Linked DNA regions of Homo sapiens: regions 2 and 3 are each linked to region 1. The links come from fine-mapping of genetic effects on gene expression. A gene starts in region 1. Each other region holds a variant in brackets. All regions are shown on one strand. Distances are from middle to middle.

Region 1 (5,790 bases):
AGCTGGCACCTGGAAAATGATCAACACTTAGCTTTGTGGCAGATTCTCTGTGCTCAGCTGAGTTGAAAAATCGCAGAGACTAATATCTAAACTGCTATCCCCACCCGGGCGATTCCTGCTCTCTAAGGAATGAGGCTTCAATGCGGGTTTGGCTATAGCATAACAAAATTGGGGCAGGAAGTGGAGCCTGAACGCTCCTGTTCTTCCCCTAGGCTTCTCGTGGAGGTTTCTCCCTCTGTCATTCTTTTTAAAGGAAGGATCCCAAGGAAAAGGCAAACAGAGAAGCAGGAAGCAGCACTGATGTGAAGAAAGGGGAGGAGGGAAATCAATCATGCATTTCCACAGCCATTAGCAGCCTCTGCTCTTCCCACCTAGGCTGACCTCACACCCCAGGTGCTGGTTAGTGGTAAGTGCTCCCCACCCTCCACAAGCTCCTCTCATTCTCCAGCAGTTGCAGTGCAGGCAGCACTTTGGTCTAAATGAAGAAAATTGTTCATTAGATACCAGGGGCTAATTGGCCCTACTTTTACCAGCCTGGGTGGTGCCCCAACCTTTTATCAGCTTCTCATTAGACTTAATTGATATGAATGGCCTGATATGTGCTGTCTGCAGCACCTTTGGGAAGTCTTCCTTGTCACCCCGCCCCCACACCCCAATCCCATAGACCTTGTGCTTCCCCCCTAATTAGGGCATTCATCATTCTGTTCTTTTTGTCTGTTGCAATTGTGAGTGAGAGCCTCAATACAGTGCCTGTGCAGTGGCTGGCACATAGTGGGTATTCCACAAATTGACTGAGTATTACTGTACTCAGCTTGGCTATGAAGAAGAGACCCAGGCCCTGGGAAGGGGGGGCCCCCAGGCTGGTCGGGGAGAACAAGGCATAGCCCAGGCTGGGGTAAGAACGAAAGCAGAGCTCCCTGAGGTTCACAGGCTGTGGGCTGAGATGCTCCATCACCCCACTTTACCCTGGATGGCCCTTAATCTCCGGGCCCAGTCTGAATCAGGCATGCTGATCTCCATTGCCCCACCCCACACAGCTCACGGAATCCTAAAAATACAGTTTTATAAGGTCAGGACTAGGAAGGCACAGGGAAATCATTCCTTCTGCTTGCACACCTCCTAGCTTGGGGATCTTACTTCCTTCTAGGGAGATCTGTTTTAATCATGGATGGGAAGCATGTGCTCCCTGGGCCCACCAGAGCCCTCAGCTGGTGCAGCCAGGAGAGTGCGGCTTGGCATCAGGTGCAGGTACATCTCTCTTGCCTTCTAACCATCTCTCATGGCAAAGCCCTCAGCCTCAGCTTCTGAAAGCTTGTGTGTGTGTGTGTGTGTGTGTGTGTGTGTGTGTGTATGTGTGGTGGAGGTGGAGCTGGGCTACCAATCAGACACAGACACTCTGAGGATGTTTCCAGGATGAGAGGCTTCAGACAAACAATCCAGATAGGGTCTCAGCGTGCTTGACAACTGGGGTCCGGCTGGAGATATCAGGGGGGTTCTAGGTGGGGCAGTGATTGCTGCCCCCACAGCCTCCCGCAGACCACACACCTGGCTCCCATCCCATGTTCCACAGGGCACAGACAGGCACCTACCCACACGCACACACCCAGAACCCACACTGAACGACCCCACCTGGAGGCTGTGTAACTCCAGCAACCTCTACTGCCCTTTTCCCCAGAGCCTCAAGCCAGTCCATGATTTGCCAGGAGGAAGGCAGGCACAGGTTGTTCTCCTTGAGAGATGGTGTTGGGGTGCTGATTCAGACACCACTCATTATGGGGGCGCAGGAATAATGCTGCCCACAGCCCCTGACTCAGCCCAGCAGGTCAGTCCTGGGACCTCGGATTAGGGAAGATGCAACACCCCGCACCCTCTGGCTTAGCAGAACCTACGCCTGCATGTCCTCCCCACGAAACATGCGCTCGCCCCAGCCCTCCTGCCTCCTACCCTCCTCCTCCCCTCTGGTAGTAGGGTCTGGTCACTGCACTCACTCTGGGGGATTTGGGACTTAGCATATCCGCCCTCCTGGGATAGGTCCCCCTCCTGGGCAGGGGAAGCATTGTCTAAACAATGAAGCCCTAATGGGGAACTTCAGGCAACGGGAACCTACAATGAGGGAAGGAGGTTTACACTCCAAGAGGAGGAAGTATTTCCTTCTCCCCTTTTTGGGCTGTCACCGCATGGAGCACGGGAATTGTGGGCAAATCACTGGCTTACTGAGATTAGACGCTGTATTGGGGGTAGAAGCAGAAGGCGCGCCCCCAACACTGTAAGGGGTCCTTAACGCCCGCGGTCCGCGGTACCGCGGCCGTCAGCAGCTTTGTACCGCTGGGTCCGGAATCCTCTTTACTCCCTAAACCGCCTTCTCAGGAGGCCGGTGTAGAGCAGGCAGCGAGGGCCGGGGGCACTCACGGGTCGTGTTGTACTTGACGCCGTTGAAGTACTCGGGGCACGGCCTCTCCACGAGGGCTCCGGCAGCGCTGCGGGGCCAGCACGTTCCGATCTGGTCCAAGGTCGTGTTGCAGTAGGAGTAGGGACCTGGCGGCGGGAGAGAGCGCAGTAGGGCTCAGAGGGGCCCGCAGGGACGCGGGGCTCTCGGAGCGCGGGGTCAGGGGCGCACCCAGCGCGCGAGAGAAGGAGCCCGCGCAGCCTCCGACCGCTCGCCTCCCGCCTACCCTCGGGGTCCAGGGGTGGCCCCCAGCCGTCCAAGAGCAGCTCTTCAGCCAGCGCCAGGCTGCAGTTGGCCTCCAGCAGGCTGTGGAGCAGTGCCGCGTCCATCGCGTCCCGCAGCCGCGTGCGGAGAGGGAGTGGGAGTGCGCGCCCGGCGTGACTGCGAGGGAGTGGACGCGAGAGTGAGCGGCCGAGAGGGCGCGGGGTCCTGGCCCCCGCCAGCCCAGCCCCGATCTCCCGGGCAGCCTTTGGGCGCCACCTCCGGTCGCCCAGAGCTGTCAAGTGGGGACCTTCCCGGAGAGGAGCCGCCGAGTGCACGGAGCTGCGGGTACAGCCGCTCCGCCGCGGCCAATGGCTGCGCCGGGGGGCGGGGCCGGGCGGCTCCTCTCGGAGGGGCTCAGTCTCCAGCCCCCGGGCCCTCCACCCTGCCCAAAGTACGGCTTCTCAGTTCGCAGCTCTCTTCCACTCGCGGCGTCCAGAGGAGGGCGGTGGGCTGGAGAGCGTGGGCCTGGGGTGACGGAATGCTCTGTGCGGGGATCGCAGGCCCCCGAGCTGCAGGGGGCAGCAAAGCGCGCCCACCTGCCCGCCTGCCCGAGGAGAACACCGCAGCTCTGCTAATCGAGGGACAGCCGCAACCCAAAGTTCGGCAGCTTTCCGCCTGAGCTTCCCCTCCCTGAGCGAGGACACTGGAGGGAGGCAGAGACGGAGAGCCCATGGGCAGATCTGCATCCTCCAAAAGCCTCCATAGCCTCTGGGAAGGAAATGTATCGAGGAGGCCTGGAGGGAAGCAGGGAGACACCCATGAGTCTAATGAGATCAAGTGGCCTGAGTGGGTTGAAGTCCTTGGATCAGACCGTGGAAGCTGGAATGGAGAGAGATTTCGGAGGGGCAGCCAGACCTGGTGAGGAGGAACTGGAGTGGGTGGCTGGTTTTAAGTAGGAGCCCAGAGGCAGGGATAACATCAGGTCTCCTGCTTGAGTGACTGGGTGGCCATTTAATCAGATGGAGTAAGTCTAGGGGAGAAATTGGCTGAAATTATCTGGAAGGCTTTATACACCCAGTTGTTAGTGCCTTGGGCACCAGAAAGAATAAAGGAAGAAGTGAGAATGTGTCTCTCTTCCTCAAGGCTTGGGCAGGGCTTCACCTGACCCTGGTTTCCACACCAGTAGCGGGGCAGGGGCGGGGAGAATCAGGCCCCACAGCAGGTGTGGAGGAGCTGGAAACCTCCCCAGAGAACTTGCCCAGGCCCCCCACCCCACCCTGGCCCAGAATGCCTCCTTGGTGATCTGCTGTGGCTGCACCCTCAGAGTGCCCAGGGCGGGCCTGCTGTGTCTGCCAGCTGAGTGGGGCATTGGGCTCGGGAAGCAGGGCCTGGGGTAAGGCATGCTTCCACTCAGGCTGCATTTTGGTCCAGCCTCTGACTCTGCTCTCCCTGCCATGGTACCCCAGGCAGGATGCTTGCCCTCTCTTCTGGAGCTTTCTCCATCAGTGAAATCTTCCCCGAGGCCCCTCTCAGCTCTGAGACTCTCTGGTTCTGAGTTATGAGACGGAGAGTCTGGGGAAGACATACATGTGTGTTGTGTGTTGTTTGTTTCTATCTTTAGAGGGCAAGGAGAGCTGGAACCTAGTCTCAGAAACCAGTCCTGTTCCCCTGCCATCCTCCACATAAACCTAAGCTGCTAGGAAAGGCTGAAACCACCATGAACTAGCACCATGCCCTGGGCAGAGAGAGGCAAAGCAGCAGGCAGGCTGCTTTTGTGTGCTCCGCTCTCACCAGCCTCCATATTAATGGTGCTGTCACTGCCCAGGCAGAGCGAGTGAGACCACACTAAGACCAGGGCTGAGCCCTGGAATCTCTCCAGGGCCTGCTGACTGGCAGGAACAAGATGCTGAGCAGCCAGCCAGGTCTACCCTCTGCCTCCTGAATGGACAGTGAGAGCCCAGGCTCAGCTCTGGGCAGCTGCAGAGGTAGAGGTTCCTTGGTCTTCATATTATCCAGTGCCAGGAGCAGGGGAGGACCTAGGCAGAGTCCTACCCTCCGCTCCTAGACTGAGCCCTGTTACCCAGGGTCCCACACAGGCCAGAGGGTGGCTGGCCAGGTCAGCCCATGTATTCACAGGGCAATAGTGTCCCTCATATACAAGGGATAGCCCTTCACACAGCACGGTGCAGCACAGAGGAAGGGAGAAATCCTAAGCCAAGCTTAAGTTATTATCCTTGTTCATTACTGCAGCCACCACCTAGGTGGTGCCTAAAGCACCTATAGATGCAGCTATGTCAAGAGGTGGTGTGCTCCCAATGACCAGAGGCCAGGGACTTCTCATCTCATGCAGATTTCTGCAGAACAGAGGGTTGGCCTGGGTGAACTGGATTGCTCTTAACTGGGAGAGCTCACATACCAAAGATTCTTCTGGGAAGTGACCATTTCAGTGGCAGAGTCAAAGGCTGTTCTGCATCCTGAATGAGCAGTTGGGGTCTGAGCACATACCCACAGACCCACAGACCCGAGGTCCCCTGGATGTGGGGCCATTTCTTCATGGATCTTATTATTATAGGCACAGTTGTCATTCGAGATGTGACAGAGGGAAAACTAGAAAAGGTAGCAGTTTGGGAACAAATTGATTTTACAGCTCACTTTAGTGTCTGCAAACAGGCAAATGAGGAAGAAATTGGGAAGAGCCCCAAAATTCCCTCAATTTTACTAAATCCAAGTACAAACAAACAAAGACAGGGGCATTTTTGCTAACTAAAGAAGCAGAGGTAGATTAGAGGCTTTGGGATAGTGATGGGTTCCCAGCGCTGCAGGCCAGCCCCATCCCAGCTGGAGGCCAGGAATTAGGGGATAAGTATTTGGAACAGTTTGTGTGTCCCCAAGCTGTTGGGGACAGGTTGGCAAATAGGTTCAGGGAAGTGTGACAGGTACTTTGGAAGACCCCTGTGTACCATGAGCAGCAGAGTAAGGCAGGTGCCTCTGGTGCCCTGCATCCCATCCCATGGCCCACCTCTGATGTCAGCTGCAGCAGCAGTGGACAGTTCCAGGCCAGCTCAGACACACTTGCAAAGCCTAATACATGGCATCAAACAGGCATGTAGGCACAACAGAATCACACACAGAGCCACAGT
Region 2 (5,790 bases), 49 kb before region 1:
AGGTATATGGAACATCTTTTTTTGTTTTGTACTATTTCTTTTGGACATATGTTTGTGAGCTAATTAAACTTTTCTGTTTCACTTGGTCACTGAGGTTCATAGGTTTTTCTCTTAAAAGACAGAATGGGCTTTGGTTTGGGTCACTGCCACTTGTTTGAATATTTAGGTAGTCTCCACAGAAAGTCTTTTATGTGGAACCAAAAAATTACCGTCTTTTATATACAGTAGCTTTCAGAATGCTTTCACATCATTTGACTTTTTTAGTAACGGGCTTGTGAAGCAAGCAGAGCAGGTGGTAGAGACCTGCTTTTTAGGTGGAGAAACTAAGGTTCAGAAAGAGTTCATGACTTGGCCTAAATTCGGAGCTGAAACCAGGTGTTTCTGATGCTGGTTCTGCTTCTCTTTTGCCATACTGCTTTTCATGTCATGTTTTCTGGCATTTTGGTAATGACGTTATGCTTGAACACTTGCTGAATATTAACCTCTTTTGGTTTGGGATATTAGCATTTAGATATTTACAAATTAACATATTTGGATTTTTTTCTTTTTAAATCATCCAGTTCTTCAGTTTCCCTGCTGTAGTTGCTCCATTCAAATGTTCCGTCCTCCCACTGAGCCAAAACCAGGAGTTCATGCCATTTGTCAAGGAATTATGTAAGCAAATTCAATTGGGTAAACTCCATGGGAACACCATCAAGGAGACTGAATTTTAGGAAATGTATCATTTATTTCAATAAAAATATAGACTGAATAAAGAATATAAATGATTTTATAAAGAGTACATGATTTTAGCCTGTACTCTTATTTCTAAGCGAGAGGATATGCTTGCTCAGATGTTTTATTCTGGCATTTGAGTGAGGCAAGGTAGGACCCAAGAGTCAGATTTAAAAATTATTTACTTCTCATACTGACCTTGGTGCCAAGTTCATCGAGGGAACCTGAGTGGAGTGTAGCAACCATAATGGATCTACAGCCACAGAATCCACAGCCCTGAAAGGAATCCTGGTGGTCATCTGGCACATCCACTTATTTCAGAGCTGGGAAATGGGGAGAGTCCATTGACCTGCTTAGAGCCATAAAAATAGAGGTGGTGGAGTCAGGACTCACCTTCTGGCCTTGGCTCTTGGTCCCATATTTGTTCCCCCTATAGCTGTATCAGATGGAGGTATGAGTGAAGATTTGGATTCCCGCAAGGGATTTATTAAACTTTAGGGATATTTCTTTCTCTTGCAACTCAACTTGTTGCTTTCTTGTCTTGGTCCCATTTATAAGTCTCCTGAGCTTGTAAGACAGTAGTTAGATAACACTGGGCTTAACTCCATTGTTTTATTTTTAATTTACTTTGTTTATTTTGGATAGCGGAAGCCCTGACCAGGCATGGAGTATCTCACAAAGTAGACGATTCCTCTGGGTCAATCGGAAGGCGCTATGCCAGGACTGATGAGATTGGCGTGGCTTTTGGTGTCACCATTGACTTTGACACAGTGAACAAGACCCCCCACACTGCAACTCTGAGGGACCGTGACTCAATGCGGCAGATAAGAGCAGAGGTATCTGGCCTTCTCTTTGGCATTTTTAGCCTTAGAAATGTGTACTGCTTCTTACTGATTTGTGTTGGATTTTGATGTGTTTATGCTCCCTTTCCTTTTTTTTTCTTTTTAATTTTAATGAACGGCTTGTATCAGACAGAGCCCAGATTCTCAAGTCCCCCGGTTTAATTATGAAAATATCCATTAGCACTTCTCTAATATTTTATAAACATTTGTGTTGCTCCAGGCTTATTCTCCAGCAGTTTGCTTTTATACTTGTTTGTTTATTGGGCAAGAGAAATATGATCCTAAGAATTTGTTGCCATAGTTTTATTGGTAGGCTTTGGAGGGTTAGACATTTTAATGTTTTATTTTTACAGACGCGTATACATGTGTATGTATAAGCTTTTCCGTGTTCATATATTCAAAACAGTGAATCATGTTTCAGTAGTTTTGGTCAATAGGAAGGCAGTAATGGAGATGGTAGAAGCACAGAAGGAGAAGGATGAGTGGTAAGGGAAAGGAAAGAGTAGCTGCTTTAATTGACATCTGCCTGCCTAATTTATCACCTTTGAGCACATACATCAAGTGCCTGTTCTGTGCTTAGCTTGATACAGAAGTAATAGGGAAAACAGAAGCAAAAGACTGCTTTTTTTTCTGAAGGAGTTTATAGTCTAATCCAGAAGTCGTGAATTTCTAGCTTGACTTTTTAGAGACCATCTGGCTACTCTGGAGCTGTGTCCCCATCTGGGTGTGGTTCTCAAAAGTGTGGTCCCTAGACCAGCAGCATCAGTATCCCCTGGAAATGTATGAGATAAGCAAAACCTCCACCCCAGACCTACTGCATCATAAACTGGGGGTGGAGAGGCAGAGGGGGCAGGCAGAACTTTCTTAGTTTTAGCAAGACCTCCAGATGATTCTGACGTGCACTCAAGTTTGAGAACCATTGCTGTGTGGCAGCCAGTGTTTGGTTTTGGCTGAGGAACAGTAGCCTTGGTCAGAGCTCTCCAGTTTGCCAGTCTTATGTAATTCCCTCACACGAGTTACTTGACTGAGTCCTGTTTGTTCTAATAGTTAAATTTAATACACATGAAGTAACTTCAAGGGACATGGAGATTTAGAAAAGTTAGGAAAGGCTTTGTGGCAGAATTGAGTTGTCTGGGGGAACTGGTGGGCGTTTTGGGCTAGAAGAGCATGAACCCATGCCTGGCATGACATTGTTTGGCTCTGTGTAAGGTTTCCTGAGTTCAGGATGAATCTTCTTCTTAAAAATCTGAACAAGTTGGTTGATACTTGGCTTCTCTTTCCTTGT[C/T]TCTAGATCTCTGAGCTGCCCAGCATAGTCCAAGACCTAGCCAATGGCAACATCACATGGGCTGATGTGGAGGCCAGGTATCCTCTGTTTGAAGGGCAAGAGACTGGTAAAAAAGAGACAATCGAGGAATGAGGACAATTTTGACAACTTTTGACCACTTGCGCTAATAAAAAAAAAAAAAAACTACTCTTATGTCCACTTTACAAAAGAAAACAGCATTGTGATTACTCCCAGGGACCGTATTTTATCTTCAGTGGCTGCCTGATTTTACCCCCACAATTAAAGTTGAAGGAATCCTGAACAAACTTGTGATCTATTTGCTTGTGTTTTTACATTTTCAGCAAGGCTGTTTCTCCCACGTTTGGGTAGACATGCTCATGGCTTAATGTTAAACACAGTTAACACTTTTTAAAAAATTAACAGCTTTATTGGGGTATAATTTACATACCATAAAAATAGCCTGTCTTAAGTGTACAGTTCAATGATGTTTAGTATATTTACAGAGTTGTGCAACCACCACCACAAACCAATTTTAGAACATTTTCATCACTCCAAAATAAGTCTCATGCTCATTTACCTCACTCCCATTCTAACCTCAGCCCAGGCAACCACTCCTCTACTTTCTGTCTATTGATTTACCTTTTCTATTCTTTATCTTATTCTGAGAAAATGACGCAGTGTGCAGGTACTGTGACAGCAGTCTCCAAGCAGGTGAAATGACTTCTGGAAAAGCCTGAGGTGAGGATGGGGTGGCAGGAGTGGTGCTTTAGGGCTGCTAACCCCACTGTTTGCAGATTCTCCAGGAGGGGAGGGCCTTGCCATATTTGCCTTCTATCTTAAGGCATGCTTGCACTCAGCTCCACTGGTAGCCTGGAAATCATTAAGCTCTTGATGCTAGGGGAACCCATCTCTCTCGTCTGATTTAGCAATTCCTGACCATCGCAGTGTCTTGATTCTAGCCTAGCAGTTTTTGGCTCAGGTTTTAAGGTACTTTACTTCTTTTATGTTTTTGTATAGAAAACTCAGAACGCTGTGCTTATTTGTAAGGGAAAAATTCCAGGTTGTGTGAATTTGAGCAGCTGTTTATTTGCAGAGCTATGACCTTATCTAGTGTGCCCACTTCCTCCCCTGCAGTATTGGATAGAGGAGTGGTGATCTCCAGTGTGCCCTTTTGTTTCTAGTATGAAGAACAATTGAAGTTGTGATTTCTTAGATGTAAAGTAGGAATCTCCCAGGGATTTCCCTCATTTGTATCTCATCTCCAGTGGTGCCTACCGCAGTGCTGTACATAGTAGGTCTTCCATAAATAGTCTTTGGATGAGTCTCGAATTTTTGAACAGACTTCTTTTTTGAACAAACCTCTTTGGGAGGAAAGCCTTATACTGAAGCATATTTCTCTTCCGTCTCTGCTTTTATGAGCATTCATTATTAAATTAGAAGGAGCCAGATTTTAAATAAACTGAGTTTTCATTTTCTAGGGATTTCTCTCACTTCGAATTCCATATAATATAGCTTTTAACTGGGCATATGTTCTAGCAGCTTTACATTGGCAGGGGGCTGCCCTAACTGCATTTATTTGCTGCTTTTACAGCAGGTACCTCCATAGTCAAACAGTCACCACAGCCTCAGACATTGGTTTAAGCTCATTAATAGGGAAAGATACATTAAATACATAGTGAGAGTTACCTATCATCAGGTTGGTGCCAAAGTAGTTGCGGTTTTTGCCATTAAAAGTAATGACAGGCTGGGCGCGGTGGCTCATGCCTGTAATCCCAGCACTTTGGGAGGCCAAGGCGGGCGGATCATTTGAGGTCAGGAGTTCGAGACCAGCCTGGCCAACACAGTGAAACCCCGTCTACTAAAAATACAAAAATCGGCCGGGTGTGGTGGCACGTTCCTGTACTCCCAGCTACATGGGAGGCTGAGGCAGGAGAATCACTTGAACCCGGGAGGCGGAGGTTTCAGTTAGCTGAGATTGTGCCACTGCACTCCAGTCTGGGCACAGAGCGAGACTCCATCTCAAAAAAATAAATAAATAAAGTAATGACAAAAACCATAATTACTTTTGCACCAGCCTAATACTTTGGATCAGAAAGGGATTGGAACCAAGCCTCACTTCCCTTTTCATTGGCAAATACATTTGTCATGAGGTAGAGGCTGGATATTGAATCTGCAAGCCCTCTTTTGTTCCTTCCCCTGGGTAGCAATGCGTGATTTCTCCTGGATCACCTGCTCTAAAGCAGGTCTCTAAAGTGATACCTGAGTGAGGGAGACGGGCCGGCAGCAGAGCTCTCTGGTTCTGTCTGTACCATGTTTGCTTGATTTTAAGAACAAGCAGTTGAAGTGCTGTTTTCTAAATGAAGAGACTCTTTACCCACGAGTTTGCGTATGCATACGCACACACCTCTTCTGTTCAAGCCCAATGTGTATTTAAAGCATGGGTCTTTCTGGCTTAATGCTCTTTGAGGCCTTTTAAATTATTTATATACCTGTACGTACCGGACTGTGGGCTTAACAAGAGTGAGATAAATAGCATTGTATCTTGGAGAAGTTACTCCTGTTTATTACTTCTCCCAAAAATGATGGGGGAAGGTCAGATTCTTTTTTTTTTTTTTCTTGTGCTTAGTGCCAAATTTTATTTTTCTTTGGAAGACTGACATTAAACGTGAGAAAAACAAAGGATAACAAAAATTATCTTTATTTTCAAAATAACTTTACTAAACTATACTGATTACAAATAATACAGTCTAATGAAAACAAAGCCACTTAAAAAAGTTTAAAGAAGACATGTATGTGTAATTTTCTCATATAATTAACACTTTAAATTATTTTACAGAGTGTCATTTTAGAAATGGGTTGATACTATTTTGAATTATAGAATTAAAGTATGATCAGCATCTAATACAAAAACATACAATTAGATATTTTCTATTTTTCTGCTTTTAACTA
Region 3 (5,790 bases), 27 kb after region 1:
AAACACTGAAGGCCTACTATGTGCAAGACCCTGTGCGATGCCTGACCATGGGTGCTTAGAACAAAGTAGGTTATTAGATGTCAAGTGAACAAATGGACAGGGAGGACCCTGGGAGCCTCAGGGCAAGGGGCGTGGAGTGGTCAATGGCAGGGTCACACAGTGGGCAGGTTCTGGATGCCATTACCTATGCCTGACTTTCCTGGACCCCTACAAGAACACTGGGCCGGAAGGCAGAAGACAGTGTTTGATTTGAACTTCACACAATTTTATTTATTGAGCAACTATTAAGTGCAGGAGGCAGGGAGAGAAGACACAGTGGTTGCCCCAGCTTGGTGGGGGAGATAATAAGTAAACAGGCAAGGCCTATGGGGGGAGGAGTAAGCATCACCAACCCGTGCACCCCGCCAGTGGGGCCAGGGAAGGCAGCTTAAGGAATGAGGGGACCTCAGCTGGGTGAGGCTGGAGGTGTCAACAGCAAATGAGCGAGAACAAGGCAGGCCCACGGACCAGCATGTGGTTTGTATGGGTGGCATCTGTCATAGATGGGTGCCTGAGGGGATGTCTTAGCCAGTTTGGGCTGCGGAACAATACCATAGACTCAGCGGCTTATAAAAAATAGGACTTTATTTCTCACAGTTCTGGAGGCTGGGAAGTGCAAGATCAAGGTGCTGGCAGGTGGTGTCTGGTGTGGAACTACTTCCTGGCCTCCAGATGGCCATCTTCTCCTCATAGCCTTACAGGATGGAGACAGAGCAAGCTCTCCTGTCCCTTTATATGAGGACAAGAATCCCATCATGAAGGGTCTGCCCTCCTGACTAGTCACCTCTCAGAGGTCACATTTCCTAAGACCATCACAATGGGGCTTAGGATTTCATCATTTGGCTTTGGGGTGGGGGAGTGGTACACAAACATTCAGTCCATAAAAGGGGGACTACTAGGGTGAGGCAGGGCCGTGGGCAGAGCGCAGGCCTGGGGCATGTGGGCTGGGTAAGGCAGACTTTGGAGGTTTCCACCATGGGAGTGACAAGGGCTGGAACGTGGGAAGAATAGGGTGGAGGATGGCTTGGCTGGGACACGCCCAGGGGCAGGGAGATCAGGCAGCAGACTCTGCAGGGACGTGATGGTGGCCTGAGTCCTGGTCCAGATGCTGCTATCCAGAGAACACTGCAGCCAGAAGGGACCTTGACAGTCACTCGATTCATGCTTCCATCTCACAGGTGGAGAAACCAAGGCCCCATGAGGCCTGGGACCTGGCATTTTCAGGAAGGCCACCCCCAGGAAGGCTTCTTCCCCAGCCACTTAGCTGGCCCTCTCCCCAACCTTTTTCTGCCTGCTCAGTGAGACAAATCAATGACACATGTCTCTTCCTCTTGTTCTGGGCCACGCTGCCTCTACGGCAGGGTGATGTTGTGGGGCCTTGAGCTTGGGGCTCCCCAGAGGGCAAGAGCCTGAGACAGCAGGTCAATAAAAGGTGAGTGGTCGACGGGATTGGCAGATCCTGGACTCAGCCCTTCACTGGGCAAATGTCAGGCCCAGTGGCTGGGCAGCTTGGGGGCATTTCCACCTGAATGCAGGGACAAGACCACCGGCCAGTGGCATCAGACTGGCAAGGTGAGGAGGTGGCCTTTTGTAATGGAGTCACCTGTGTCCAGAACAGCTGTCCTCCCCTTGGGCCATGGGAGGACAAAGGAGAGAGCCAGAGGAAACCAGAGCCGAATGCCACATTGACTTCAGAGTGCTCTCCTGGTGGCTGGTGGGGCTGGGTGGGGTAGTGTGAGAGTGAAGCCAGCGGCCTGCAAGGTTTGTCCTCTGCCTAGTTCACTTGGCCTGGAGCCTGAACTGGGAGGGAGGATTCCGGTCTGGCTGTAAGACTTACTGGCTGTGAGCCCTTGGAGAAAAGGGATTCATCGTCTGGACCTCAAGTTTCTCATCTGTGAAATGGAATCGTCTCCATGGCTGAGCTGCCTTACATTGCCCCTGGGTCATGTTTACGTTCTTACGGATCCAGCCTCCCTGCCAGGGGTTCCCTGGTCTCTGCTCGGCTACTCCCTGGGCTGGGGCTGATGGCCTCTCAGGCAGACACTCTGATCATCATCATAGCCTGCCGGTGAGTAGTCTGAGCTAGGCTGTCAGTAGAGAAGGGTGGGATCCACTTTCTTCCACTCTGATCTCTTCTCCACAGCCCTCAGTTATTCCTGGAATTAGACAAAGCCCTGAAAAAATGCGAAGTAGGGGACGTGGAAGTATGATAGCTGCAACTAGCACCTCCTGGCTCACCCCTCCCACCTTCCCAAGATACACCGAAGTTATCAATAATGCTGAAGGCTAGAAATAAGCCAGAAGCAAGGGGAGATGTTTAACTAATTGAAGCCCAAAGAAAGGAGTGAAACAGAACAACACCGAAGCCACTGTTTGCCCTGCCTTCCGTCTGGGGAAAGGAGGAAAGCCGTGTTCCTACTGTGTGAGGGCTGCATTCTCCTTGGCCTCCCTCATCCATATCTCTTACCATGTGGTGACAGCTGTCCTTTGAGATTTAACTCAAGTTGCTGTGAGCACGCTATCCTGCCTCCCTGAGGGGGTTCAGTGACCTCCATGGGCATGTATGTGTTCCAGGGAGCTCATGTTCTCATGGCCCCCTCCAGTCAGAGTCCCAGCTTCTTCTTTTTTTTTTTTTATTTTTTTTTGAGACAGGGTCTTGCTCTTGTTCCCAGGCTGAAGTGCAGTGGCATAATCATAGATCACTGCAGCCTCCACTTCCCAGGATCAAGCAATTCTCCCACCTCAGCCTCCCAAGTAGCTGGGACCAACTGTGCCCAGGTTTTTTTTTTTTTTTTTTTGGTAGATAAGGGGTCTCTCTATGTTGCCCAGGCTGGTCTCGAACTCCTGGACTCTGATTTCTTCTGTGGGCCCAGCTGTGTGCCAGCTCTGATCAGGAAATATGGGAAGAGGAGACCCAGGCCCATCCATGAAGATGAGATGGGGGGAGGAAGAGAAGCAGAGGAAAAATCCAGCCTCATTCTTGGGAGGCTGACTTACCCACAGTCAGGGAA[C/G]AGCCTAGGCTGGGTGTGAGCTGGAGGCTGCGAGATTGTGCAAGAGGGATGGGAGGTCACAGGGGCTGGAACCTGTGGCAAAGGATCCCAGGGGAATCAAAGGATGGAAACGATTGGGTGGTAGAAAAAAGGGAAAGAAACTCATTCCCATTGCTTCACGCTCTGGGAAGGCCATCACAATGCTATTCTTAGAAGGAAGCATATTTAATGGGAAAGTTAAATCCCACACCCATCTAAACCCTTGACTTCTGCATTTCCAAATACAGGGCTTGGTGAGTTACCTGAAACTGTATTAATAACAGCTAATGCATACATAGCCTTGGTCCCTGGTAGGCATAATTCTAATCCTTTCAGATATACCCTATAAATGTATATAATCCCTATATAAAACCATATTGTTACCTGTGTTTTAGGGATGAAGAAACTGAAGCACAGAGAGCTGAGGTCATGGGCCCAAGGTCACAGCTCTAATAATAAGCAGTGGATCTAGGAGTTGACCCAGCAGTCTGGGTCAGGAGTCCATGCTCTTAACTACTGTGCTATGGTGCCCTTCTGTGGGAAGGGCCACGCAGCGCCTGCAGGTCCTTAGAAATACCTCTCTTGTTTTCCCAGGGCTTGCTATGAGAGTATCACTCACCCATCCCCCGCCCCTGGTCCTCCTGCTGAATTTCAGAGCCCATCTAGCCATCAACTACCCGCGCCTCCACTGCTCTTACCGGGAGGCTGTTTGTGAAGGCAGAATTGGAATTTCTGAGTAAAATTTTCTTTCTCTTTATTTCAGAAATATAGTTCTCTCAAACTGAGCACCAGAGCTATTGATTCAGCAATAATAGAAAGTATTTGTGTGGAGAACCATGCCTCCTTGCACAATCTGCTAATGTTCTCGTTGGCAGGTATATAGAATATTGACAAAGGAAATTCAAGTTGTCCTGAATTTCCCCCAGCTTCTCAGGAAGAAGGGGAAATTAGTTTTGAACATGGCATAAATACCATCACAGTTGTCCCCAAATATTGATTCTTTGCAGTGTCTTTTATTATATGCACATAATAGGAGCTCAATAGGAATTGACTAAAGCCAGATTGCCTGGTGAGAATTCTGTCTGCTGTGCTCTAGCTGTGTGACCTTGGGTGAGTGACTTCCGTTCTCTGGCTCACAATTCCCTTTGTAAAGTGGAGCTGACAATAGTACCTTTCATGGTACCTACCTCTTTGGATCATGGGGAACTACATGTATGAATCTAGGCCCAGTGGTTAAATCAGCGCCTGGCCCATCGTACACCCTCAGTCAAAGACTAGCTGCTACTGTGACAGGCTTCAAGTGGAAGAGTGAAAGCAAAATATGGCTTGGATGGAAGAGGTCACCCTGGCCACCCTGCTCCTGATGATTGGCACCAGAAGTGACTTTGATCTTTTACAGATATTTGCACTGTTGATGAAAATCTAGCAAGAGTTGGCAAATTAATACTGTATACAAAAATAGAGAATTTTGCAAGTAACTTTAGAGAACATCTAGCTTAATTCCCCTCATTTTAGATGTGCAAAGTGAGGCCCAGAGAGGGGAAGGGCTTGCTCAGGCTTCTACAGTTGGTCCCTGTCAGAGCTGGGACTTAAGTCCCTCTAGGGAAGAGGCTACGCTGCTTCTCCAGGTTCATTTCTTTATCCATGGCTGTGACCAAATAAAAGATTCAAAGGTCAGAGAATCAACATACTGCCTTTGGGAAAAGAAATCACAGCTCAAGTTGGCACGTTTGGCGCTGAGTCACCAGCATACACTGCTAGGGAGGGACAGCAGCCATCAGTTTAATAACCTCTAAGCCATGTGACTAGTTAACCAGGGAATTCTTTTTTTTTTTTAATTATTATTTTTTGAGATGGAATTTCATTCTCATTGCCCAGGCTGGAGTGCAATGGCGCAATCTTGGCTCACTGCAACCTCTGCCTCCCAGGTTCAAATGATTTTCCTGCCTCAACCTCCTGAGTGGGACTACAGGCATGCGCCACCATGCCTGGCTAATTTTGTATTTTTAGTAGAGACAGGGTTTCTCCATGTTAGTCAGGCTGGTCTCGAACTCCCGACCTCTGGTGATGCGTCCACCTCGGCCTCCCAAAGTGCTGGGATTACAGGCGTGAGCCACCACACCCAGCCAACCAGGGGATTCTTTCTGAGAAGTTCTCACCATGATTTTCTTCCTGGTCATTGATGACTGATCCCATGGGTAATATGTGTTTCTAATCATTAGAACCATGGTGATGACATTGCAGGAACCAGAGATGCTTTTCTACCCAGTTCTCAGGGAGGATGCATGACACCCTGAGAAATATGATTTGTATCTTAGCTAGTTAGTGGTAGATTTAAAACCAGAACCCAGAACTGCTAACTTCCCAACTAGGAATCTAACTACAACAAAAGAGTACCTCTCTAAGCAAGCCTTCTGCCAGTGATTTTCTGCATTGCAGTGTTTTTACTTTTTATTTTTTGAGACAGAATCTTGCTCGTCACTCAGGCTGGAGTGCAGTGATGCGATCTTGGCTCACTGCAACCTCCGCCTCACAGGTTCAAGTGATTCTCATGCTTCAGGCACCCAAATATCTGGGACTAGAGGCATGAACCACCATGCCTGACTAATTTTTATATTTTTAGTGGAGATGGGGTTTTACCATGTTGGCCAGGCTGGTCTTGAACTCCTGGCCTCAAGTGATCCACCTACCTCGGCCTCCCAAAGTGTTGGGATTACAGGTT

Which allele goes with the higher level. Positions count from the first base shown, and alleles are read on the strand shown. Sizes are in standard deviations (SD) of each study's normalised expression. Not every link is listed here.
As copies of T replace C in region 2, the expression in fibroblasts of the gene that starts at base 2,951 in region 1 goes down (moderate effect, 0.64 SD a copy in GTEx).

Evidence for each region. PIP is the estimated chance that this variant, and not a neighbour inherited with it, causes the effect.
Region 2: its variant is the best candidate, but not a certain one, in a credible set for the expression of CRHR2 in fibroblasts (GTEx, PIP 0.78).
Region 3: its variant is the best candidate, but not a certain one, in a credible set for the expression of CRHR2 in tibial nerve (GTEx, PIP 0.82).

The regions. Positions count from the first base shown.
Region 1 is chr7:30,679,506-30,685,295 of GRCh38, forward strand. It overlaps CRHR2 (corticotropin releasing hormone receptor 2), which reads right to left and starts at 2,951. Exons shown (of 12, transcript NM_001883.5): 1 at 2,673-2,951; 2 at 2,410-2,535. The coding sequence starts at 2,775. It overlaps LOC124901608 (a long non-coding RNA gene), which reads left to right and starts at 3,114. Exons shown (of 2, transcript XR_007060275.1): 1 at 3,114-3,568. RefSeq lists a silencer at 2,973-3,022.
Region 2 is chr7:30,630,888-30,636,677 of GRCh38, forward strand. GARS1 (glycyl-tRNA synthetase 1) reads left to right here. Exons shown (of 17, transcript NM_002047.4): 15 at 561-654; 16 at 1,360-1,550; 17 at 2,848-3,146. The coding sequence ends at 2,973. Among named protein-coding and RNA genes, the nearest start is that of GARS1, 39 kb to the left of the region's middle. The variant C/T (reference allele first, on the strand shown) is at 2,842.
Region 3 is chr7:30,706,078-30,711,867 of GRCh38, forward strand. All of the region lies in intron 1 of LOC105375220 (a long non-coding RNA gene), which reads left to right. Among named protein-coding and RNA genes, the nearest start is that of CRHR2, 27 kb to the left of the region's middle. RefSeq lists an enhancer at 1,362-1,862. The variant C/G (reference allele first, on the strand shown) is at 3,051.